Linked DNA regions of Homo sapiens: regions 1, 2 and 3 are each reported to be linked to region 4. Evidence: microRNA targets listed by miRTarBase, many of them from high-throughput screens and not tested one by one. Region 4 holds a microRNA gene; each other region holds the end of a gene's coding sequence.

Region 1 (6,206 bases), not on the chromosome of region 4:
GATGCCCTGCCCAGAGAGGAGGAATCTAGAGAGGCAGTTTGGCTAGCGTAGCTTTGTTGAGCTGTGGTGGGCTCTGCCGAGTTTGAACTTCCTGGTGGCTTTGTTTATACTGTGAGGAGAAAACCACCTACTCAAGCCTCAGTAATGGTGGATGCCCCTCCCCCCATCAAGCTCGAGCGTACCAGGTCGACTTCAGACTGCTGTGCTGGCAGCGAGAATTTCAAACCCGTGGATCTTAGCTTGCTGGGCTCCGTGGGGTTGGATCCAATGAGCTAGTCCACTTGGCTCCCTGGCTTCAGCCCCCTTTCCAGGGAGTGAAAAGTTCTGTCTTGCTGGTTCTCCAGGTGCCACTGGGTTATGACAAAAACTCCTGCAGCTAGCTCAGTGTCTGCCCAAATAGCTGCCCAGTTTTGTGGTTGAAACCCAGGGCCCTGGTGGCATAGGCACCTGAGGGAATCCCCTGGTCTGTGGGTTGTGAATACCATGGGAAAAGTGTAGTATCTGGGCTGGAATGCACCATCCCTCAGGGCACAGTCCCTCAGGGCTTCCCGTGGCTAGGGGAGGGAGTTCTCCCAACCCCTTGTACTTCCCGGGTAAGGTGAACCCCACCTTGCTTCTGCTCACCCTCCATGAGCTGCACCCACTGTCTAACCAGTCCCAATGAGATGAGCTGGGTACCTCAGTTGGAAATGCAGAAATCACCCACCTTCTGCATTGATCTCACTGGAAGCTGCAGACCAGAGCTGTTCCTATTTGGCCATCTTACCAGCCACCAAAATCATACATTTATGGTCAACTAATCATCCCAAGTCTCACACTGAGATACACAGAGCCTAAAGAGGGACAAGGGAAATCTTTCTTGGCATTGCATAGGTCCTCCTCCCTACTTCCTCCCTAACTCCCAGCCCTGGAGCAGAACTGCTTCTCAAAGCTGACCTGGCCTCCTTCCCTCTCTTCTTTCCCTGGGTTGTCCAGATCTAAGAGTGATATTATCCCTCTACTGCTCTCAAACATGGCTCCTGACCTCTCCCTTTATATCTCATGATTGATGGTCCTTGAGAGTTTCCCTGGCTTCCTGTCCCTTCTTCTCTACCAGTGTCTCATGCATGAACCCACAATGGTAGGAAGGATCAGGGAGCATGGAGGGAGAAGAGGAAGGCAAAGAAAACAAGAATGAGAATGGGAGGGCTTTGCTGTTGAGCTAAGAACAGAAGTTTGTAGGTAGCCCCCTCCTTTAAATGAGGAACAGCTTCCTCCCCAACATGGTCATCACCATGCCCACCTACCTGCCATTTAGTGTTTTTCAAGGATTAAAGGGGAAGTAGCAAGGAGAGCCTTTAAATTACTTGACAGAAGACTAGGCCATGATTCCGTTTTGTTTATTCTTCTCTCCCCAACTCTGCCTTTCCACTCTCAGTTATTGTGCCCATTCCTCTGGGAATAGTGGAACACAATAACACTCACTACACCCTGTCTTTGGGCCCCTCCTCCTCTCCTTCCCTGAAAGAATGGAAGTGGCAAAGTGGCAGGAGCAGGATTGGCCTGTGGCAGACAGAACAAGGCAATAAAGGAGGAAGAGGTTTCTTGGGAGTGGAGAAGGAGCTAGAAGGAACCCAAAAAGGCCCATGGGTAGAAACCATGTCATTGTTTGCTGGGAGGGAAAAGGTGGAGACCTGAGTCTGGCACAGGGTAGGCTTGACCCACTCACATGCTCTTGTGTCTCATCCACAGCAAGCAATGGCATTCGGCTCCCTGAGTCCCTGACTTCCAATCTCAGTCCTCACAAATGCACACAAGTGGAAAAAGCCTGCTAAACTCTGCTCTCCTAGACCCTTTCTTATCTTTCTCTGCTCAGCTCATCTTCTCTGGGAGCACAGAGACTGGAAAACGAGTTCATACCCCCTCACACTTGGTTCAGTTCTTCAGTTCCATCTCTGTCTGTGGGATCAAGAATTGGAGCATTCTGCCTCTTCACTCTGTCCCATGAATGAATAATCTGTCCATTTCTCCAGTTCCTGAGCTTTTGTATGCTGCCTTTCTCTTGTGTCCTCAGAAAGGCAATGGAGCTCATGTCTATTAGCCATGTACTGAGAAGGTGGTGGGCAGTTATGCAATAGAATGACATCTCTTCCCTTTATCTCATTCTGCCATTTATTTCCTTACTTCCCATATCTCCATGGACATACATTTCTCCTCTTTTTCTGAGTTGGCAAGGGATGACATGAGTAGTCAGGATGCACGGGGAATGTGGCCCTAGGAGACTGTGTCAGAGGGCTGAAGGGCAGACTGGGCACTAATGAGTCAGCCAGGAGCACTGATTTCTAGATCCTGTTCCACAACCTCAGGGATGAGAATGTGCTTTTTCCTGGGGCCCTTGTATTCAAATGATGGTGGAGTATCTGAACTTGGAATAACAAATCCCAGTTCTCTGTTTCTGCTCAGACCCATCTAAAGGCAGTCACTTCCTGCCACTTGCCTTAAATAATTGATCTCTCAAATAGAACCCATGTTCCCTGCTCTCAAACCCTGCTGATAATGATGCCAGTGTAGATGAGGACCTGCACGATAAGCTTTGAAGGTAACAGGTATTATAACAGGGGTAAGCAGCTTTAGGAAAGTGGAGTGCTCTTTTGCTGACTTGTTCTGGGGGACTTTGCTGATTCTCATGAGTATAACTGCTGGGTCCATTGACCTAGTACATCCTTGAATTTTTTAGTTAACCTCCCTTCTTTATAAAAGCTACATGAATAAATTTATTTGAATGGTGGTATGATAGCAGCTATCCAGGATGCTAGCAAACATGGATTCACACAAAGAGAATGGAGTCCCCTGCAGGAATTTGAATTTCCCATTTTAGTTTCAAGGGCACAATCTCAGATCATTCTAGGAGGAGGGGTGGTGAGGCAGTCATAGTCTCCAAGCCTTTGGGAATATGAGATCCTTTCCTCCCAGGTCACTTCCTCCTTTTGGCTTAGCACTTTCATTCTTTTTAGTCGCCATTATGTGCAGTCACCTCTTTCCTCTTTCATTTCTACTTTATTGGCTTGAGGATGCACCTAGTAGCATAAATACTGTCCACAAAAATTCCACCCCTAGCCATCACCTCCCCTCCATTTTCAGGAATCTCAAGTTGAGGGTTTGTAGTATATTTTGGTTTTGTTACTCATGAGCAGTATAGCTAGCTGAATTGGGACATCAGTGTATTGTTTCAGGCTGACTAGAGAGGAGCACCTCTAGAACCAAATGAATGTCATGCCAGAAGGCTACCATTCTGACCATCATTAGTGGGCCTAAAAACCAGCTAGAAATGATGGAAAACTCATTAATGAAGAATGCTTAAAAGCTGGGCAAGTAGACAAAGCTTATTTTCTTTTCTAAATAACTAGGTGAAGGAAGAATGAAGAAAGTTCCAAATGTTTAGGAAACACCAAATGTGGCCAATCATTGTGTCAGACATGCTCACATGTGTGCATTTAATCCTCACAGTAGCCCTAAGAAGTAGGAATTATAATCCTCATTTTATAAATTTGGAAACAGGCTTAGAACGGTCTCTTGGTGGAAAAAATATCTGAAGACATCCATTTCAAAAAAGCAAACATTGGCCATTTCTGAGTGATTTGGTAACAAAGTTTTGTTTATTGTCTAAATTTAAGATAAAATGTGTCATTTTCATTACGAAGTACAATTTTATGGAATACTAAATAAACATATATAAATAAGCCTTGGCCAACATTATAAACCAGGATCTGACATAGATATAAATCCATGCCTTCCAACTTCCCTTGACGTCACATTATCTTCTCTTAAGAGATAGTCACTTTGGCTAATAGGGAAAAGAAAACCAGTAACATCAGAAAACAATTTCCATCTGGCCTGGCTCTGACTGGCATCATCACTGTGAGCCATATGCCTTACTTTTCTCTGACACTTCAGGATGTTCCCTCCTGGTATCAGCTGTGCACCAAAGCTAAAAGTTCACAAGGCTCTCCTTGCCATTCTCAATAAATCAGTTTTGCAAAATCTCCAGGCCTTCTTGCAGAGTATTCAGGCATATAGGGTTGTAGTTGATCAGCCATAAAGATGGGGCTCCCTTTAGGTCCTGCAGCAGTATGGCACCAGTTTGAAAGCCTCCATCCAGTCCACATAATGAAAGTCAGAAAAAGACCATTTACCACTTATCTGTGCTTTCTACAAAAAAAAACCAGATACCTGGATGAGGGCCAAGACTGCCTCCCTCATCATTTCACTATATGTCTATGTTGACAAAGTCAGCAAGAGGAGAGATATCAAGTGCTTGCAAGGTCCCTAGGCCTGTCCTTACATTCAGACCTTCCCTTGCTACTTGTAATTCCTTGACAGAAGACATTGTGGTAGTGGGTACTCAGGAGAGAAGCAACAAGAATGGGACAATTCTCCCAGGGCAAACACTGAATCCTCTCTTTCTGTTACAGAGTAAAGTTCCCTGAGTCCTGGTCTTGATTGTTCATGTAGACAGAATGATAACTATTGAAACTGTCCCTAATTTAGTAATTCTCTCTGAGCTCCCTTAAGAGGGCCCAAGTACTCTTATTTTCCATTTCTCTTGACAAAGAGTAAAAAATGAGACTAAGAGCCTTGACTATCATATGTCTGTTGAGCACTTGATACCTGAAAAATTTAGATGACTGGGGGTGGGGAAGCTTTGAATAACCAGATATATACATATAGATAGATAGCTAAAGGAATCTCATCACTACACTTTCATTTTTTTATTTATAAAGTACTCCTTATGTATCAACTCTTGTGCTAGGCACAGAAGATGCAATGCTGAATAAAACAGACAGCTTAGATTCCTTTTTGTGAAGTGTAACATGTACCCTTCCCAAATGTTTTATTAATCACAGATTCCTATCATTGGGTGCCTCATAATTTTGTATTCTTTCACCACTTCTAAAGTCAAGCTCTACATGGTAACTTTCCTCAGTTTGGAGACACTAGACATGCTTCCCTTCTTCTGTGGAGTTTCTGGTGTCTAAGAAGGCTCGATCGCCTACTAAAGTTTCTCTTGCATAAGCTACACGTATAAGGCTGCTCACCTGTGTGAGTTCTCTGGTGTTTAATAAGGTGGGAGTTCTGAATGAATCTTTTTCCACATTCATCACATTTAAAGGGCTTCTCTCCTGTGTGAATTCTTTGGTGTGTGTGTAGATTTGTGTTATGACTAAAGCTTTTCCCACACCATGAGCATCTATATGGTTTTATTCCTTGATGGGTCATGAAGTGCTTATTAAGATCTGAACTCCATCTAAACCTCCTGTCACATTGTTGACATTTATAGGGTTTCTCTCCAGTGTGAATTCTGTGGTGTTTAATAAGATCAGAGCTAACTCTGAAGCTTTTCCCACATTCCTGACACTTAAAAGGTTTCTCCCCTGTGGGGCCTTTCCCATGAAGATCCATAAGTTTTGGAAGCTCTTGTTTACAAGTTGCAGGTTTCTTTCTTTTCTTCCTTGGAAAAGCTCGATGCCATTTCTGTACACTGTGTGTATCACCAGGATTTTCCCTGCCCATTGTTTTCTGGGCAATTTTCATTCTGGTCTTTTTTGATACTTCGCATCCTGATGTTTGTATTTCTGATGTAGAAACAGATATAGGATGATCATTTCCAGTGTCATTTTTTAGCTTTAACCCTGTTAGAATAAACAGAATAATCAGCCATCTGTGTCCCAGTGAAAGAAAGCTACATAAATGGAGAGAAAAGTCAATGATGATTGCTTTAAAAGAAATACAGGAACAAGTGATTTCTGGTCCAGTCTGGACAAAATGGCATAGACCCATTTCTCCTTGATCCTCCCTGATAGGCACAAAAACAAACCCATTAAGTGATATGAGATAACAAAAAGAAAATTCTAAAAATGGTAAGAAAAAGACAAACTGGTTTAGGACCCCAGAAAAAAAAAATAACATAGCAGGGTGGCTTATATCCCCACACCCAACAGAAGAAGGCAACTATCAACAGAAGGCTGCCTGGGTAGGCTTATTGTTTCCTGAATGTAAAAAGAAGTGCAAATAAAGACTTGTTGATTGAACTCTGGATAAAATAGAATATGTGACTAGCGCCAATGTGCAGTTGGTCTTGGGCAAACATACATGATTCTATAACTTTAGCACTGGAGCTGCTGGAAAGGTAAAAGCTAAATGGAGTTTCTGCTCTTTTTTACATTTTC
Region 2 (6,206 bases), not on the chromosome of region 4:
TTCCGCCCGCCATTTATTTAAACAGATTTATCATGACCATTATGTAGGCATTTGATTAGCTACTAGTTTGTTACTAAGAAGTAGAACTGGCACACGCCTATAATCCCAGCTGCTTGGGAGGCTGAGGCAGGAGAATAGCTTGAACCCGGGAGGTGAAGGTTGCAGTGAGCCAAGATCATGCCACTGCACTCCAGCCTGGGTGACAGAATGAGACTCTGTCTAAAAAAAAAAAAGTAGCACTCAAGCTCAGTAAAACCTGGAGCTGAGATTTTACTGTTTAGATTAGATAGATATAAAAAGTTGTTAGGTTTAGTTGTTGAAACCTATTGTTGAAAACTTTAAAGTGGCTGTTAAATTGTGTTGCTTGTCCACGTATTAAATGGCTGTATTTTCTTAGGTTAATGATGAATGCAGACACAGGACTCAAAGTACAGCTATTTTTCTCTTTAATTTGTTAAATCAATTTGGAGTGTATATGTGGCTTGTTAGTTCCTTGCATAGGTAAGGAAGCCACCGTCTCAGCTTTCTTAAAGTTCAGCCTTCCTGGATTCACACTTTCGTCAGTTCCCCAATTATTTCCCACTCTCTCACCCGAGGAAAGCCAGTCAGCTCAGTGTGACATTCAAGTCTCTCTGTGAGTGATCCCTCACCTGCCTTCCTAGCATTATTTCTTATTGTTGCATGTATAAGTCATGCATAAATCATGTGCTCCAGGCAAACTAGCTCCTTGCTTTCTCTTAATGGAGGCACAGCACAAATTCTTAGCCAGAGGACCACAAACTAGTAGACCTTATTCATGCCGATCCTTTGCTTGGCATGCCTTTCTCTCATTTCTACTTGATAAAATTCTACCCACTTCACAAGTTCCAACACAAGTGTGACATTCTTTATGACCTTTCCAGAGGAAGAAGGCCTTCTTCATATTTGACCCCCCACAGCACATTACAAGTCCGTCATCTCACCTGACACATTCACTATTGTTCTTTATTTATATATCCCATTTCCCCTATTTGATTTTCCTTTTTAAGAGACAGGGTATTCTTCTGTTACCCAGGCTGGAGTACAGTGGTGTGATCATAGCTCACTGCAGCCTTGAACTCCTGGGCTCAAGTGATCCTCCTCCCTCAGTCTCTCAACTATCTGGGATCATAGGCACATGCCACCACACCAAGCTCTATTTCCTCTACTTCTTAAGAGCTGGATTTTTATCTGACTTACGATATCAATATCTGCCATAGTACATAATAGGCACTCCACAAGTAATTGTTGAATAAATATTTCATTTTCCTCCAATTCATTCATTCTGTCAATCATCAGGTATTTCTTGAATACACACTATATGCCAGGCACATGTAGCTAGCAAAATCTAGGTTTGAAGCTTACCTGTGGATTTTAATGATCTATGCTATTTCAAACCTCTACCTGCATGGGGAAAGATTTGTTCTTATCATGCAGAAGTACTTCTTCTTGTCATTACCACTAATTCTATTATTTTTCATGGTGTCACTCATTGGCAAATTTAGTAAAGCATGTCAGGGTTCTGCATTTATGTACTAAATATACGTCTAGTTTTGTCTTATCCTTTCTGTTTCTATTTTTGTTTGCTCTGAGTTCCTCACTTAATTTTTGTTTTGTATTATATATATTTTAGTAGCTGCCTCAAATCCTTTTGAAATGAAGCAGAGTACCAATAAATAAGTAGAATAAAATCTGAAGAAAATCAAGTAATTGGCTCCAAACCACAAATCCACACAATGAAATCTCACTCGGAGAGCTTTTGCTATTCAGAATTCAATAAAATGTAGGTCTTCCTTGGACTCCCTTCAAGGGGCAAAGTTTCTAAGATAATTATAAGGTGATCTTACTTTTAATGTGATCCCACACATACATCGTTTAGAAACCTGTTAAGAAAATAGTAATATTGTCATTGTAGTGATTGATGGTATTTGAAAACTGCATTGTAAAATCTGGGACTGTTCACAGAAGCAGGTAAACCTGAGGACAAACATGTCTATGTACCTGAAAATACTTTTTCTATCTTAGTGATTTTTTTTTTAAAACTAAGGTTGCTAGGGAGGTGATTTATCAACTTTAGAAAAATAAAGGGAGCTAAGCTTAAAATATACTAATATACTATGTGGGAAAAATGGCTCCTGAAATGAGAGTGCTTAATAGAATCTGCATGAAGTCAACAGCAATGGTGTTAACCAAAGCATACATTTTCCATTCCCATCCTATAGAAATTGCATTCATCTGCCACCAGGCTATTGTTACTTTAATACTTAAACCTCACTAGTAAAAGGAAGCTCTTTCACCCACGTTAAGATTTTGCCATTTTGCACTCCTATTTCTCTATTCTCATGCTTAATGAATACAACCCCTCCTCATCTATCTAGATATGTATCAAGCTTAACAGATTCTATTTACACCAGGCAGATTTGTTGAGTCCTATAGCCAATTCAAAACTTTGTTTTCAAAAGATGACTGATAATTAGTTTATAATTAATTCCTAATGCTGTATTTCACAGAGTAGGCACTGTATCTTTATGGTTAACTCTAGGGAAGAGAAAACATAGCATTGTCAAGCATGATATTAAAATGACAAAATGACCTCAGGAAACCAGAGTTCTAAACAATGACTACAGAAGAATAAAAAATATCTAGAAAATTGCAGTTATTTTAGTTTAATGGTATACATTGGCTATGATTACGATATGTAATTTATTTAAAGCATATTTTTTAAAAACTAGTTTCAATTCATCTTTATATGTATGTTAAAACCCAGTGCATCAGCCTGGAGACTTGTCAAGTTTGTTGTTTTATCTGCATTTACCAGGCTCCAGTGCTGCTCATCCATGGACTGTAGCCCCCAAGGGCAAGTGCCATGCTTCTATTCATTCCTGTCACTTAGCATTGGGTCTATTCTCAACCAGTGTTAGTTGAATGAAAAAATGGACTTTTACCTCCTTGCCATAATCCTAAAGCATGCCAAGATGGCATGAGCCTCAGCCTTTCAGAAAGAACAGACTTGAGTGCTAGCGAATATGTTCTGGAAAACGTTTGGCATACTGATACATCCAGGAGAGAAAGGACAAGGAATTTCTTCTTTTGTCCCTCTTTCAGGAAATCCTCACAGAGATTTTATTAATAGCTTGATTAATTTTAATAGCTTGGTTAATTCTATGATAGCTTGATTCAAATTGTGCCTTCACATACATTTGTACGTATCTCAGTGCAGCCACAGGAATTCTTGTAACCCAAGAGTAGAATTTATATTGTAGCCCATGTGTGTTTTTTTCCTTTGCAAATTCTCTCATCTATTCTATTTCTGAGAAAATTCTTTTAATAGCCCCTTTTATGGCCCAAATTTACATCTTACCAGGTAGATATTTCTCTGGGCTTCAGTGAAACTACTCTGGGAAATAACAGGAAAAAAAAATACACCTCTGAAAGTGAGCTAGCCCCAAGGAATAAGGTTCAGAAGTGAAATGTGATCTCATGGAATGCAACTACCTAAGTCGCTATACTTCAGCCTATTTTGTTTTCAGAGTAGCACACACCAATCAAGTGGTTGCCTATCTCAAAAACTTTAGAATTTATAATTTTAGAAATATGAAAGAGAATTTGCAATGTGATCTCAGTGGCTGGCTCACTTCTCCTTGTAAAAATTTTTATCTGATTATAAAACAAACAACCTACTTTTTCAAGGCATATCAGTGCCATGAAATCATGCTCCACCTTTGCCCGCTTTCATCATATCACCAGGAGCTGCAGTCTGATATAAGAGAGGCCATGACAGAGAGTTAATTTCTGCCAATGCCCTTCTGGCTTTTACCGCAAGATATGGTTATTTAATTTTCTTCTGGGCATTTACATAGAGCTTTGATGGTGCTTCTTACCATATCACTGGGTCTGCCTGACTGCTTTATGGTGAATCTGAAACCATTGGGAAAATGGTCCAGAGTCCCTGAACTTTGCTGGATCCTAAAATTATAGTTTGGAAGCTGTGAGAATGTTGGTGAATAAAAAGAAGCATGTGTCTTTTCCATGAATTAATTTTGGGTGAGATTGCAGGATAAAATGATGCTTGCTCAGGAAGTGCCAATGCCCATCTACCCACCCTGACCTCGGGGAGCAGCACTCAGCCTGACATGCCAAGAACAGAGCTTTGTCCCCATGTCTCAGGTGACTGAAATTCTGCCTTCTGCCCAGAGCCCCTGCTTGGGCTTCAACCAGCAAAGCAAAGGCCTAGGAAACATTTGGTACCATCAGCTCTGGTGGTTGCACCTAAGATGGAATTTCATATAGCCTCTTGTTTATTTATTTATTTTATTTAACAAGGCGACCAGTTAGGGGACCCAGGTTAAGCCCTTCAACAGAACTATCCTGAAGAGCAAAAGTAGCAAATGACAGGCTATGACTAGGGATTGAATTTGGGGAAGGCTGGATTTGTGAAATGAGAGCCAAAAAAGTTTTCACCTTCTAGCCCACAGGTTAAGTTACTGAAAATCAGTCATCACCATTTCTACCCACTTGTGTGTTTCTCCTACTCTGGAGAGTAATCTAACTCATCATTTGCAATCAGGGCCTCTGAGTTCTGTTTGTGTTTGCTTTTGCTCTTCGCTTTGCTACTTGTCCGGCCGTTTGCCTTCGCATCTGACATCTGTTGGTAATAGAAGCCTTTGTCTTCAGTGGGCCCGCCCCAGTCCTCCTGGCTCTCGCCCTCTGTGGCGTAGGAGAAACCCTCCTCCACTGAGAAGGGGTCATCCACGTCGTAGCGTTGGTACGTGCTTTGGTGCAGGGCCTCTTCTCGAGCGCTGATTTCCAGGGTGCTGTTCCAGATGCCATATCCAAAATAAATGAGCAGACCTGTGGGGCGAGGGGAAAGGTACAGGTGAATAAGCAATTGCTTTGGGATCCTGGGACTAGCAGAGAGATCACCTTCAGTGATGAAATCAAAGCTGGCGGGGTGGGGGGCGGTGGGGGCGGGGATGTATTTTCTTTGCTTTATGTGGTGTTTTGAAAATACTTGAATTAGATGCCTTTTAAAAATTGGGAGATCTTGCGTTAAGTAACCCATATTTACAGATTTTCCTAGAAAAGTCAAAAGGTCTGACAACACTGCATCCACATTTCTACATGGTGATTTTTGGCTGGTGTTGAGAACTGGCTGCCTCTTTAGACAGGATACAGGGTCTCTAGGTTACCTCAGTCCCCACCTCCCATGCTGACGTCGGGCTCATTACACTCATATAGCTGCCAGCCAGGAATTTGCATTTTCTACCCTGGGTGAACTATTTATGGATCAGCAACAGTTTATTCCCAACGTTCTTATAAGATTTGATTATTCTCTGCCTCCAGTTAGGGACTCTATCTCATGTTTCACCTCTTAGCAGCATGCATATATTATCCTGTGATTTACCTTGACATTTTACACTCACTAAAGGCGTGATATATCATGGCCACTCCAAGCTGCCTGCTTTCTTCTGTGTGCTCTCAGAGTGTCTAGTGCATGCTACTATTATGTCCCTTAGAACATCTGTTGTGTGATTATCTGCACAGGGTCGTAGACTCTGCAGAAAATTGGCACTTAATGTTTGTTGAATGAATGGGTGAGAACTCCTGATAAGCGTGAAATGTCCAGTGCAACCTCTGTGTTGATGTCATCCCAATCAAAGGAAAGAAACTTGCCCCCCTCGTTAATATGTAGCATTCATATATGCTAATGTTTCATTTCTATGATTTAAAAAACATGCATAAAAGTCATTTATGAGTACCCATTTTCTTTTTCTTTTCTTTTTTTTTTTGAGACAGGGTCTCACTCTGTTGTCCAGGCTGGAGTGCAGTGGCATGATCTCGGCTCACTGCAGTCTCTGCCTCATGGGCTCAAGCGATTCTCCTGCCTTGGCCTCTCGAGTAGTTGGGACCACAGGCATGTGCCACCACGCCCAGCTAATTTTTGTATTTTTGAGAGATGGAGTTTCACCATGTTGCCCAGGCTGGTCTCAAATTCTTGGACTCAAGTGATCCGCCTGCTTCCACTTCCCAATGTGTTGGGATTACAGGCATGAGCCATCAGTCCTGGCCTGAGTCCCCATTTTCTATCTTGAATAGACTGTGAAGGTTCAGGGCCTGGAAGTCTGGGAACCATAACCTTGGAGTCCATAGAACATGATAAGTAAGACTGTGGGCTCTGTGTTCAAATC
Region 3 (6,206 bases), not on the chromosome of region 4:
GCCACACATCTACAACCATCTGACCTTTGACAAACCTGACAAAAACAAAAACAAGCAATGAGGAAAGGTTTCCCTATGTAATAAATGGTGTTGGGAAAACTTGCTAGCCATATGCAGAAAACTGAAACTGGACCCCTTCCTTATGCCTTGTACAAAAATTAACTGAAGATGGATTAAAGACTTAAACATAAGACCTAAAATCATAAAAACCCTAGAAGAAAACTAGGCAATAGCATTCAGGGCATAGGCATGGGCAAAGATTTCATTTCTAAAACACCAAAAGCAATGGCAACAAAACCAAAATTGACAAATGGGATCTAATTAAAGTAAAGAGCTTTGCACAGCAAAATAAACTGTCATCGGAGCGAACAGGCAACATACAGAATGGGAGAAAAGTTTTGCAATCTATCCATCTGACAAAGGGCTAATATCTACAATCTACAAGGAACTTAAACAAATTTACAAGAAAAAAACAAACAACCCAATCAAAAAGTGGGTGAAGTATATGAACAGACATTTCTCAAAAGAAGACATTTATGTGTCCAACAAACATATGAAAAAAAGCTCATAATTGCTGGTCATTAGAGAAATGCAAATCCAAACCACAATGAGATACCATCTCACAACAGTTAGAATGGTGATCATTAAAAAGAAAGGAAACAACAGATGCTGGAGAGGATGTGGAGAAATAGGAACACTTTTACACTGTTGGTGGAGTGTAAATTAGTCAACTATTGTGGAAGACAGTGTGGTGATTCCTCAAGGATCTAGAAGCAGAAATACCATTTGACCCTGCAATATACCCTGGGTATATACCCAAAGAATTATAAATCATTCTACTATAAAGACACATGCACACATATGTTTATTGCAGCACTGTTCACAATAGCAAAGACTTGGAATCAACCCAAATGCCCAGCAATGATAGACTGGATTAAAAAAATGTGGCACATACACACCATGGAATACTATGCAGCCATAAAAAAGGATGAGTTCATGTCCTTTGCAGGGACATGGATGAAGCTGGAAACCATCATTCTCAGCAAACTAACAAAGGAACAGAAAACCAAATACCGCATGTTCTCACTAGTAAGTGGGAATTGAACAATGAGAACATATGGACACAGGGAAGGGAACACCACTTGGGGCCTGTTGATGGGTGGAAGGCTAGGGGAGGGATAGCATTAGGAAAAAAACCTAATGTAGATGATGGGTTGATGAGTGCAGCAAACCATCATGGCATGTGTATACCTGCGCAACAAACCTGCATATTCTGCACATGTATCCAGAACTTAAAGTATTATAAAGAAAAAAAGAAAAAATTTGAAAAAATGTTGCTGATCCTTTGTCTTGTTTTTCAGAGTCAAGGAAACTTTTATTTTGAGCTATTGACAGCTTTTTACAAATAAGTATACTCCTATGAACAAAATTTGGAGCATATTTGTTTCTCTCTACCTTATTTCTCCAGAATTTGGAAACTATTTCTGAGTATTCTTAATTTATGGCAGTATAGTTATTTATGTAAGTGCAATAAGAATTTGTTTTCATTTGTAACAGGACACAATTGGAGAAACTGGTTATTTTACCAAGGCTGTGACTGGAATGACATGCTTTCCTTTAAAGAATCAAACTTGCCCTAAAGAGCCAATAAAAGATTTTTGGGAAAACTGGCCTTATACCTTGTCTACACAGTCCCTGCACAGGGTTCCTGACCTGTGGTAAATAAAGAATGACACTTTATGACAGGCCCAGGGCCCCAAGTTATCTTGGGACCTCAAGGGGAGAAGAATTCACCCAACTCATAGGTATTTGATGGTATAAAACATGGCTGGGCAGTTTGAGGCAGGAGAATCACTTGAACCCAGTTGGCAGAGGTTGCAGTGAGCTGAGATTGCACCATTGCACTCCAGCCTGGGTGACAGAGCGAGACTCCATCGCAAAAAAAAAAAAACCCAAAAACAAAAAATAAAGGCTGATCTGAGATGCCTTCTATGGAACAAAGTTCCATCAAAGCCAATTTAAAAAGCCTATGTGAAAAATAATTATTCTTGCTGCACTTTATACAAATAATCTGGCTAAGTGCAACAAAGCAAATCGGTCCTACCATGATGTGTCTTTAGTAAAAATGGGAAACTGGAGAGAGAAAAATTATGTTTCAAAAACTATGGTACATCTGTTGTTGGATTCTAGTCTTGCCTAATATTTTTCAATTTTTATTATTTTCTACAGTTTGGGCTGAATTCTAATGTTTCTTGGGTACAAGTTTTCAAAATAATGTTTTCATTTTTTTCCCTTCTTTTTCCCCCCATTTTTCCTCATTTGGAGTCACTGAAAACTAAGTTGTGCTTTTGTAAAGCCCTGTGACCTGATGCTAGATAACTTAAACTTCAAAAGGAAATAACAGCAGCCTATTTACATACATAAGCCACTTTCAAACCTGCCTACTGATATACGGGCTTCAGAGTAATGTGACCTATATCGATTTACCAGGATTGTTCTTTTATATCTTGTAGTTTTTCTCTCTCCCCCTGTTTTCTCTGCATAGGACATGAGACTTCTCAACTTGCTAAAAATAAGCTTTCCTAATAACTTGGGACCTAACTGTCTAGGAATGAACCATTTTAGCCATGAGAGGCCAGATGAAACCTGAGACCAGAGACTCATTTTCTTCTAAAATGCTTTCTCCGAAGATTTTAAAAAAGATAAGGGGGGAAATGTGAAAGGAAAGTAAATCTTGAAAATCTTGGGCCCCCCAAAATCACTAACCTAAAGGGAAAAGTCAAGCTGGGAACTGCTTAGGGCAAACCTGCTTCCCATTCTATTCAAAGTCATCCCTCTGCTCACTGAGGAAAATGCATATCTGATTGCCTTCTTTGGAAAGGTTAATCAGAAACTGAAAAGAATGCAACTGTTTTTCTCTCACCTACCTGTGGCCTGGAAGCTCCCTCCCTTCTTGAGTTGTCCCTCCTTTCTGGACGGAACCAATGTACATCTTACATATATTGATTGATGTCTCATGTCTCCCTAAAATATATAAAACCAAGCTGTGCACCTTGGGAACATGTTATCAGGACCTTCTGAGGCTGTGTCACAGATGTACATCCTCAACCTTGGCAAAATAAACTTTCTAAATTAACTGAGACCTGTCTCAGATTTTTGAGGTTCATAAACTTCTCTGCAGAGTAATGTAAGACCTTCTCCTCATTAAGGGTGGGGTGACATTTTGCATATTACACTATATTTCTTTTCAGGAAGAATGTAATTATTTCTGGGGGCATCAAAGGGTTTGCATCCTACTCTCTAAGTCAAGCATTCACGTTTAGGTGTTGTTGCATTCAGAAGAATGAGAAAAGATCACTCTATAGCATGGCTGTTGAAATGGGGGCTAAGGAGAAGGAAGCTCTCTAAGATACCTGGTGGTGGGGTCAGAATTATTAACTCTAAAGATAATTATGGTTAGCAGGAATATTTAGTAGTTTTTCCTCCTTTCATTATAACTTTTTTCTCTACATCAAGCCTTTAGTTATGTCTTACTAAATGTTATAGTCCAGCAGGGGAGTTTAAAAGAAATAGGATCAGGCCTATGTCCCCAGGCCTATGAACAACTTGGGGAGTATAGCCACTTGGGAGATCCTGTTACTGTATGGACTGGTGGACTGCAGAAGAGGGAGGCAACTGTTTGGAGCAGGGTCAGCAGCAGACACAGCTTTCAGAAAGAGGGACATGTTCTGGACCATGTGAGCGTTGCCCAGATTCATAGAAATATAGGCCAGAAGAACCCTGATAGAGCATAGACTTCTTGATGACAAGAAGAATTGGGTTTGGAGTCCAGAATATCTAAGTTACATTACAAAGAGATACAAAGATGTGGATAAATAAATATATTTTTTATTCAATATTCAATTTAATCTATATTAGCCTATGTTTCACTTTATAGGCAATGCGTAGTTCTTAAATTCCAAGCTCTAGAATGCTGCTTGAGACTGTTCTGGCTGTTGTGCATCTGAGAATGAGCTTCTGGGATGGCATTCCTTGACACTGAAAACTTGAGAACACATATTACCATGAGGAAGCCCTCTAATCAGGCAGGAATGATGGTGGTCAAGGAAGACTTCCTGGTGAAGGTGACTCTTGAAATCAGTTGTGAATGACAAATCAGAATAGCAGGAGAGAGAATGTTAGATGGAAATAAGGCAATCTCAACAGAGAGAACAGCATGTATATAGCACAGGTTGAGAAGTAAAGGGAACAAAGAGGGTAATGAATGGAAAAAATAAGCCAGGGGAGATGGGATCTAAGAAACAGGTGGAGATAAGGCTGTATTCACAGGAGACAAAAATGGCTTAAAGGAAGAGATTCACCTGTAAATGGGAACAAGAGAATGGAGAGAGTTCAAGTTTATGATTACTTTATTTTTTGAACTCTTCTCTCTCCTGGAGCAATGAGCTGGGAGAAGGGCAAGGGGTACAAGGAGTGTGTGTGTGTGTGTGTGTGTGTGTGTGTGTGTGTGTGTGTGTTGGGGAGAGTGTTATGTGGTGGATGGGGAACAATATATTTACCTTCCACATAAGTTTTTATTGATACCAAGATGAGGTAAATAGAACTCTGGTGTGGATCTGTGGGTTTGAGTCCAATAAGCTTTCTCTTTTACATTCATCTTATTTAAATCTTTGCTGTCACAGTGAAGAAATAATTTAGAAAACTTATAAAAGCAATTGAGTTTAACACAGATTTTATTGCCCTATAGACAGTTATGATGTGACCAGTGGATATCAATGAAACTTCTTAATTATTTGAGTCTGAAAATGCATATTTAAAACATTAAAAGATTGACTCCACTTTGTGCCAAGCTCTGCGGGTAGGCATATTTCATATCTTAAAAAGGCTTGTAATTCATTCAGGGAGGCAAAAGCAAAATCTGTAATTAGAGGTTAGCCATAATGTTATGAAAGTGCCATGAGAATAGAGAGAGAGAATAAAATCATAAAGATATAAATAAACGTATTTGAACTACAGGTGATGTATTGTCTTAAATTACTTCTATATCATATGCCAGAGGGCCTTCAATGGAAAATCCTAGGTAGAAAGACACTCTTTCTATGTTCCTACCACTTCTGAGTGGACCTGAATAAACAGATATTACTGGTATTTTTATTTTTTCCTCTGTTCCATATTCTACAGAGATTAGCTTGCCTTCAGCCTGACCAGTTAGACGACGCAGGAGGTCTTTGACTTCATTTTTTTTCCACACATCCCCACTGTGCCAGAGGGAATTTGTATTTTGTGCTTTATCAAAGTACTGCTCTATTTTGGCCTTGTGAACAATACTGTTTAGACCCTTCCTTTTGCCCAGATAGAAAAGTGTGCTTGCCTGCTTGGACCTGCACATGCGCTTGTACTGTCCCCTGAAGGATCTATTTAAGGATGAAACATACTTTTCTATTAGTTTGGAATCTTGATCTAGCTCTTGATTTTCTGGCCAGAACAGGAGGCAGGCCAAGAAATAAGGACCTGGATATTGATGACTTAGTCCTACAAATTGCAAGACCTCTCGGAGTTGTTTTTTTAGCGTGGTAAGTGGTTGAATTAACTTGGAGTTGGGCTTTAGACAACTCAGAATAATGTTGGCCAAAATGGAATTTTGTTTCTCATTTGTCATGGGCTTTTTTGAGTTTTGCTGCAGTAGGAAGGCATATTCATTCACTATACTTTCCATGGTGGTAGCATCTTTGTAGTTTGGATTAAGATATTCCAAGAGTCCAGCAAACCTATCTGCTCTCAGAGCTTCTAGCTTTTTCCTGCAATTCTCCTCCTGGAGTAATTGACTCTCTTTACTTTGTAATAGACATGGATCCAAATGACAGAAAAGTTCTGTGTATTTCCTGAAACAACGACTGACTTTCTTGCTTAACATGATTTCTGCAATTTCTTTTTGGGTATACCTCATTTTCAGAAGAACCATATAATCAATAAAAAAGTCAAAGCACCTTTTCAGATCTGATTGTAAATTTTTTAGGTGGGATGTGAACTTGCTAAGAGCCAAATAACATTCATTTCTGGGATCAGGAGGAATGGTCCACTTTCCTGATAAAAATTGCACCATATGTTTTTTGGATAATTCATTTTCTTTGTGGAAAAAGGGAGTGAGCTGAAGAATCTGGATAGTGTAAAGACCAACTTCTATTTCACCCAAGAAACAAGCTGTG
Region 4 (6,206 bases):
GAGCTAGAAACATCAGTGCCTTGTCCAGAGTGATCAGTATCTGCCATGGCGAGAGCCAGTGTTGTCCAACAGAGCCTGTCACAGTGATGGAAATGTCCAATATGGTGGTCACTTGCTACAGGTGCTACTGAGCATATGAAATGTGGCTACTGCATGAGGAACTGAATTTTTTCTTTTTTTGGAGACAGGGCAACAGCCTCTTGCCCAGGCTGGAGTGCAGTGGTACAATCAGCTCACGCAGCCTCAAACTCCTGGGCTCAAGTGATCCCCCTGTCTTAGCCTCCCCAGGGACTACAGGTGCACACAACCACACCCGGCTAATTTTAATTAATATTATGTTTTTGTAGAAATGGTGTCTCCCTAGTTCTTGGGTATCCTATCTAGAACAATAAATAATAAGACCAAAAAAAAAAAAAAAATAGAAAGAAATGATGTCTCCCTATGTTGCCCAGGCTGGTCATGAACTCCTGGCCTCAAGTGATCCTCCCATCTTGGCCTTGGCCTCCCAAAGTGCTGGGATTACAGGGATGAGAAACCATGCCTGGCTTGAAACAATTTTTTTTTGAAACAGGCTGTCACCCAGGCTGGAGTACAGTGGTGTGATCATGGCTCACTGCAGCCTAGATTTCCTGGGCTCAAGTGATCCCCCTGCCTCAGCCTCCTGCGTAGCTGTGACTACATGCATGCACAACCCAACCCAGCTAGTTTTGTTTGTTTGTTTGTTTGTTTGTAAAGATGGAGTCTTGCTATGTTGTCCAGGCTGGTCTCAAACTCCTGGCCTCAAGTGATCCTGTCACCTCAACCTCCCAAAGTATTGGGATTACAGGCATAAGCCACCCCACTTGGCCTGAATTGTTAATTGCATTTAATTAACTTAAACTGAAAGAGCCACCTGTGGCTATACTGGATGATATAGAGCACCAAAGGTTTGGTGTGCATGAACCCAGGGTACCTCTCCCAGCAGCCCTAACAGGTTGGAAACAATACCCATTTTCTAACTGAAATAGAGGCCGAGGGATGTTGGGAACTACTCCAGGCCCCTGACCAAGCAGAATGAGCTGGGGTGAGAACTGATGGTCAGGATACGCCCTCCCTGTCATCACCAAACAGGGACAGATGGAGGCTGTGAGTGACGGCATGGGGCTGGGACATGACAGGCCCCACTTGCCCCAGACTCACCGCCAGGTAGGCCAGAGCAGGGGTTCCATTGAGGCAGATCTCCATTGGTGTCTCTTGGTTGTAGCGGGTGTCATAGAACCGGGGCCAAGTTGATGGGATGGAGCTGCCTGCCTGGCCCAGGAACCAGTAGGCCTCAAAGATCTTGGTCAGGTCTCGAGCCAGGCAGCTGCAGTTGTACATGACCACGCCCAGCTCCTTGACCTGTAGGAGGGCAGTGCTGAGCTCAGCGATAGCGGCCTAGTGCTCACAGATGACAGGGACACTCCCCAGTCTGGTCTCTGTCTTTCCCCCTGTCCCACAGTACCCCCTCCACCCCAGCTCCAATAGCTAAAGTCCTAGAATGATTATCAACTTAAGTTTTGATGAAAATCAGTTATTCCAAAGCTCCAGGTTTCCTGAACGTTTGCAATCTGCTGTTGCTTCTACCCTCCACTGAGCTAGCTTCTACTCATTCTTAGGTCTAGGCTGACATGTTGCCTCCTTCAGGAAGCCTCCCATGACTACCCAGCCTGCACCAGGCATTCCTCTGGGCTCTCACAGTCCCTTGGGATTCCCTCCTCATTCTTTCTGGTGACAAACTGGTCTTCCCATTGGGCTGGGAGGACAGGCACTAGGGATGTCTCAGTCACAGCTATATCTACAGCATCTCCCTGCATAATTGCTGAGATTAAAGGTTAGGGGAACTATCTGTTGAGGAAATGAATTCATGAGTTATTGTCCTGTCTTATCTTCACCTCATTGCCCAAGCTGTTTCCTGTTCCATCTTGCGCTAATTCCTCCCTATCCTTCAGGGATCAGATTAGTTATACCTCCTTTGGGAAACCCTCCAATGCCCCAGGTTGGGGTCTCTGAGCTTCCACAGCCCTCTGTTCCCTCCATCCTGGCCCTGACCCTCTGCCTGTGTCTCCCCAACCCCGGCCCTGACCCCTCTGGGCTGTCACTGTCAGGTGACAGGCCAGTCTGCATTGGGCTGGGAGTTCCATGAGGTCCATCTGTTACCACCATGTTCCCAACATTACCCAGGATAGGGCTGGACTTAGAGCAGGCACACAGAGATGTACAATGAAGATCAAATGGGTGCGCAGGTTCTTGAATGCCATGTAGAGGGGCTGGTAGCTGCAATTGGGGATCAGAGGGAGCCCCAGGCTTCCAGGAGCAGGGGGAGGGCAGTAGAGGGCTCCATTTAGGGATTCTTTGTTTTGTAACAGGGTCTCACTCTGTCACTCAGGCTGGAGTGCAGTGGCATGAATACAACCCACTGTAGCCTCAAACTCCTGGGCTCAAGTGATCCTCCCACCTCAGTCTCCCAAGGAGCTGGGACCAGAGGTGTGTGCCACCACACCGGGCTTATTTTTTTTTTTTTGGTAGAGATGGGGTCTCACTATGTTGCCCAGGCTGGTCTCCAACTCCTGGGCTCAAGCAATCCTCCCACCTTGGCCTCCCAAAGTGTTGAGATTATAGGTGTGAGCCACCGTGCATGGCTTGGATTAGGGAGGCCTGGTAGGAGGCAAGAAGGAAGCCATTACAGAGAATGGGTGGAGAGGACTCTGGATTGAGTGAGGGATGCAGTCGGAGGCTGGGTGCCCTGTGGGGCAGGGAGTGGCCTGGAAGGAAGGTAGACAGGGTGCAGACAGACCTGGGTCAGTGAACGCCAGTCCATGTTGGCACTGCCCAGGTAGAAGTGGGTCTGGTCCACCACCCAGAACTTGGTATGCAGGACGCCATGGGTCAGCTTCTGCATGTCCACCATGCGGACCTGGGCACCTGTGACCAGCAGGGGCAGAGATCAGGGGCCAGGCTGGGTACCCCCAGGCCCAGACCAGCCCCAGTTGGGCCCCAGCTCACCGCTCTGCAGCAGAGCCTGCAGGTCCGCCTGTGGCTGGGGCCCGCTGGGCTTGCTCACAGCGATGCGGACGTTCACGCCCTTTGGTGCCAGGGTCTGCAGCTGCCGGAGGACCTCCTCACCCTGCGGGGAGGGGAGAGCTTCTGAGGGGCTGGACCAGCCAGCTCTCCAACCCCACAAGGTAATGCCCGGTGGAGTTATTTTGAGACATGATTAGGAGTAAACAGACTTTACATTAGCCTGCATAGATTAAAGACTTTACAGATTAAAATATTAAAAGACTTCCTTATCTGTTTTAAACATCTTTATCTGCTTTAATAATTAGTTGCCCTGTGATCCCCCTCCAAGTCCTCCTGACCCCTCCTGCCCCTCCAGGGACTTTCTCAAAATTCAGCATCAAGGCAGGGCCTCCAGGCATCTCCCAGTATGGTGGGGGCGAGGCTCAGGCAGGGGGTCCTGGAAGGTATCGGGTGAGGCACGATGATGCCAACAACAGCAACAGTCAAGGATGCCCTGGAACCTACTGTGTGCCAGGCCCTGTTCTAGGCCTCTTCTCAGCGAACTCACTGAATTCTCACAACCCAGTGAGGCTGGTTTAATTATAATCCCCACAGAGAACTCAGTAGTGGAGTGGGATTTTGTTTTTGTTTTTTTGTTTGTTTGTTTGTTGAGACAGGGACTTGCTATGTTGCCCAGGCTGATCTTCAATCCCTGGGCTCAAGCATTCCGCCTGCCTCAGTCTCCCAAGTAGCTAGTACCTCAGGAGTGCACCACCACATCCAGCTATGGAGCAGGATTTGAACCCAGACCATCTGCCTCCTACATCTGTGTTTTAAACCACTTTAGAGGGAGCCAGCAGGGAGTGGGAGCTCATACGGTTTTTTAACATAAAAAAATTTTTTTTTAGAGACAGGGTTTCACTATGTTGCCCAGGCTAGAGTGCAGTGGCATGATCACAGCTCACTGCAGCCTCCAATTCCTAGGCTCAAGTCATTCTCCTGCTTCAGCCTCCCAAGTAGCTGGGACCACAGGTGTGTACCACTATGCCTGGCTTTGGTTTTTAACTTTTGTAATTATTATTATTACTTTTTCTTTTTCTTTTTTTTGAGACAGGGTCTTGCTATGTTGCCTGGGCTGGAGTGTAGTGGCATGATCACGGCTCGCTGCAGCCTCCAACTCCTGGGCTCAAGCCATCCTCCTCCTTCCATCTCCTGAGTATCTGAGACTGCAGGCATGCACCACAACACCCTCCTAATTTTTTTTTATTTTTAGTAGAGATGGTTGAGGGGAGGTGGGGGGCGGGTCTCACTATGTTGCTCAGGCTAGTCTCGAACTCTTGGGCTCCAGTGATCCTCCTGTCTAGGCCTCCCAAAGTGCTGGGATTACAGGTGTGAATCACCACACTTGGCCATAATTATTTTTTTCAGGCAGTTCTTAAGGAGCCTTGTAATTTTAGTTAAGTTTTAAGACAACTTCTCACAAAAAGAGCCAGTAGGGAGAAGAAAACAGAAGGAACAAATTCATGGTTTTTCAATGGAAGAGGTTATCCATGTAGGCTGTTCCTTTTCAAATTGTGAAGCTTTTATGTTCTTTAAGTTTGTCTGCAGACCATACCAGGATATATAGTAACAGCAGACTCACAAAGGCTGACTCTGTGCCAGGCACTGTGCTAAAATTTGCATGGATTAGTCCATTTCATCCTCACAAGAGCCCTAAGAAGCAGGTGCTATAAATTGGCCCCATTTTACAGATAAAGAAACTGAAGCTGGAGAGAAGAGGTGGCCTGCCTGGGGTCACACAGCTGGGAGGTGGCCCCTGTCTTGAGGCTGGGCTGTTAATTACTCCACTCTTCCCTTTCTTTGTGTGACTGGGTCAGGACAGCTTGTGGGTGAGTGACATCTGCCAGCCTAATAATCCCTTGTAACCAAACCCGCACCCTGACATTCAGAGGCCTACAGATGACCGTGACAAACGCCCCCAGTCCAGAGAGCCACGTGACGACAGCTGCTTGCAAACACCTGTGTCCAATCTGCTGTGTGAGACACACCCCTCTGTCTCCTGGGCTGCAGGAGAAACCCCTTCATTCCCCACAGCCCCCGCTGCCTCCCACCCCCTGCCCCTGCTGCCGGCCAGGGCCAAGGTTGCAGGTACCTGCTGGGCAGAGGGCTCCTGCGTGTGGGTGTCATTGTTGGTGAGGGTCCAGTAGAAGGAGGCGATGTCCAGGCTGCTGTGCGCACCGGCGAGCAGGCCCAGCCAGGCCTGGCTGGTGGAAGGGTTCCCCGTGGAGGCATTGGGGAAGTCCAGGCCCTCAGGAATGCTTTCCACCAGCACTGCTCTGGGGGGTGGGGGATGCTATCAGCCATACGGTGCCGGAGAGCAAGGGCTGGGAGGTGAGTGCTCAGCTGTCCGTCCATGGGTGTGTTGGATAGACTGTATTTTTTTTTTTTTAGAGACAGAGTCTTGCCCTGTCCCCCAGGCTGGAAGCGCAGTGGCGCCATCTCAGCTCACTGCAGCCTCGAACCCCTGGGCTCAAGCGATCCTCCCGCCTCAACCTCTTGAGTAGCTGGGACTACAGGTGTGCACCAGTATGCCTGGTTACTTTTTTTACTTTTAGTAGAGATGGAGCCGCACTACATTGCCCAGGCTGGTCTGGAACTCCTGGGCTCAAGCAATCCTCCCGCCTCAGCCCCGCAAAGTGTTGCAATTACAGGCGTGAGCCACCAAGCCCAGCTAAACTGTATTTGAGTTTTTCTTTTCTTTTAAAAAAAATTTTTTAAAACTGTGTGTATTTGAATGCGTGCCTGGACTCATGATCCTCTGCGTGTCTGTCTAGAGGTGTGGAAGGAAGGTCGTGTATTGAGATGTGTGTGTGGGTCCACAGATGTGGGTGGAAGATGCTGTGTCTGTTCACAGGCCTGACAGAAGATGACGCTGTGGCTGCCATAGAAACTATGTGTGTGGAGGAGGAGGGGGCGGGCGAGCACTTGGGAGCCTGCAACCTCCTCACTTGTCGCAAGCGCTGGGTAGGGCTGAGTGCAGGCCCTGTTTAGTGTGTGCTTAAGTGTACCTGGTCTGGCAGGCCCCTCCCCCACCAACTGCAGCACCCCCCACTTACTCGCAAGGGTCATAGCAGGGGGCTGGGCGCTGGTTGGGCCCAAAGAGATGCAAGTCGCCGTATTCCCAT

The links. The annotated mature microRNA hsa-miR-6796-3p reads GAAGCUCUCCCCUCCCCGCAG and lies in region 4 at 3,146-3,166, opposite strand. An mRNA with a match to its seed (bases 2 to 7 or 8) in the 3' UTR can be bound and repressed. Matches are read on the target gene's strand: a 7mer-m8 pairs with bases 2 to 8, a 7mer-A1 pairs with bases 2 to 7 and ends in A, and an 8mer does both.
Region 1: miRTarBase lists ZNF75D as a target of hsa-miR-6796-3p. Seed matches in the 3' UTR shown: 7mer-m8 at 4,938-4,944.
Region 2: miRTarBase lists SLC7A14 as a target of hsa-miR-6796-3p. Seed matches in the 3' UTR shown: 7mer-m8 at 2,304-2,310 and 7mer-m8 at 1,170-1,176.
Region 3: miRTarBase lists SAMD9L as a target of hsa-miR-6796-3p. Seed matches in the 3' UTR shown: 7mer-m8 at 4,848-4,854 and 7mer-m8 at 3,961-3,967.

What each region holds. Positions count from the first base shown.
Region 1 is chrX:135,282,178-135,288,383 of GRCh38, forward strand. ZNF75D (zinc finger protein 75D) reads right to left here. Exons shown (of 7, transcript NM_007131.5): 7 at 3,614-5,669. The coding sequence ends at 4,960. Among named protein-coding and RNA genes, the nearest start is that of ETDC, 24 kb to the right of the region's middle.
Region 2 is chr3:170,462,509-170,468,714 of GRCh38, forward strand. It overlaps SLC7A14 (solute carrier family 7 member 14), which reads right to left. Exons shown (of 8, transcript NM_020949.3): 8 at 1-4,869. The coding sequence ends at 4,547. It overlaps SLC7A14-AS1 (SLC7A14 antisense RNA 1), which reads left to right and starts at 4,777. Exons shown (of 6, transcript NR_135556.1): 1 at 4,777-4,888.
Region 3 is chr7:93,126,188-93,132,393 of GRCh38, forward strand. SAMD9L (sterile alpha motif domain containing 9 like) reads right to left here. Exons shown (of 5, transcript NM_152703.5): 5 at 3,869-6,206. The coding sequence ends at 5,030. Among named protein-coding and RNA genes, the nearest start is that of SAMD9, 11 kb to the left of the region's middle.
Region 4 is chr19:40,366,847-40,373,052 of GRCh38, reverse strand. It overlaps MIR6796 (microRNA 6796), which reads right to left and starts at 3,207; the gene lies at 3,146-3,207. It overlaps PLD3 (phospholipase D family member 3), which reads right to left. Exons shown (of 13, transcript NM_012268.4): 5 at 6,138-6,206; 6 at 5,174-5,357; 7 at 3,025-3,145; 8 at 2,816-2,943; 9 at 1,180-1,380. RefSeq lists an enhancer at 977-1,271 and a silencer at 4,942-5,107.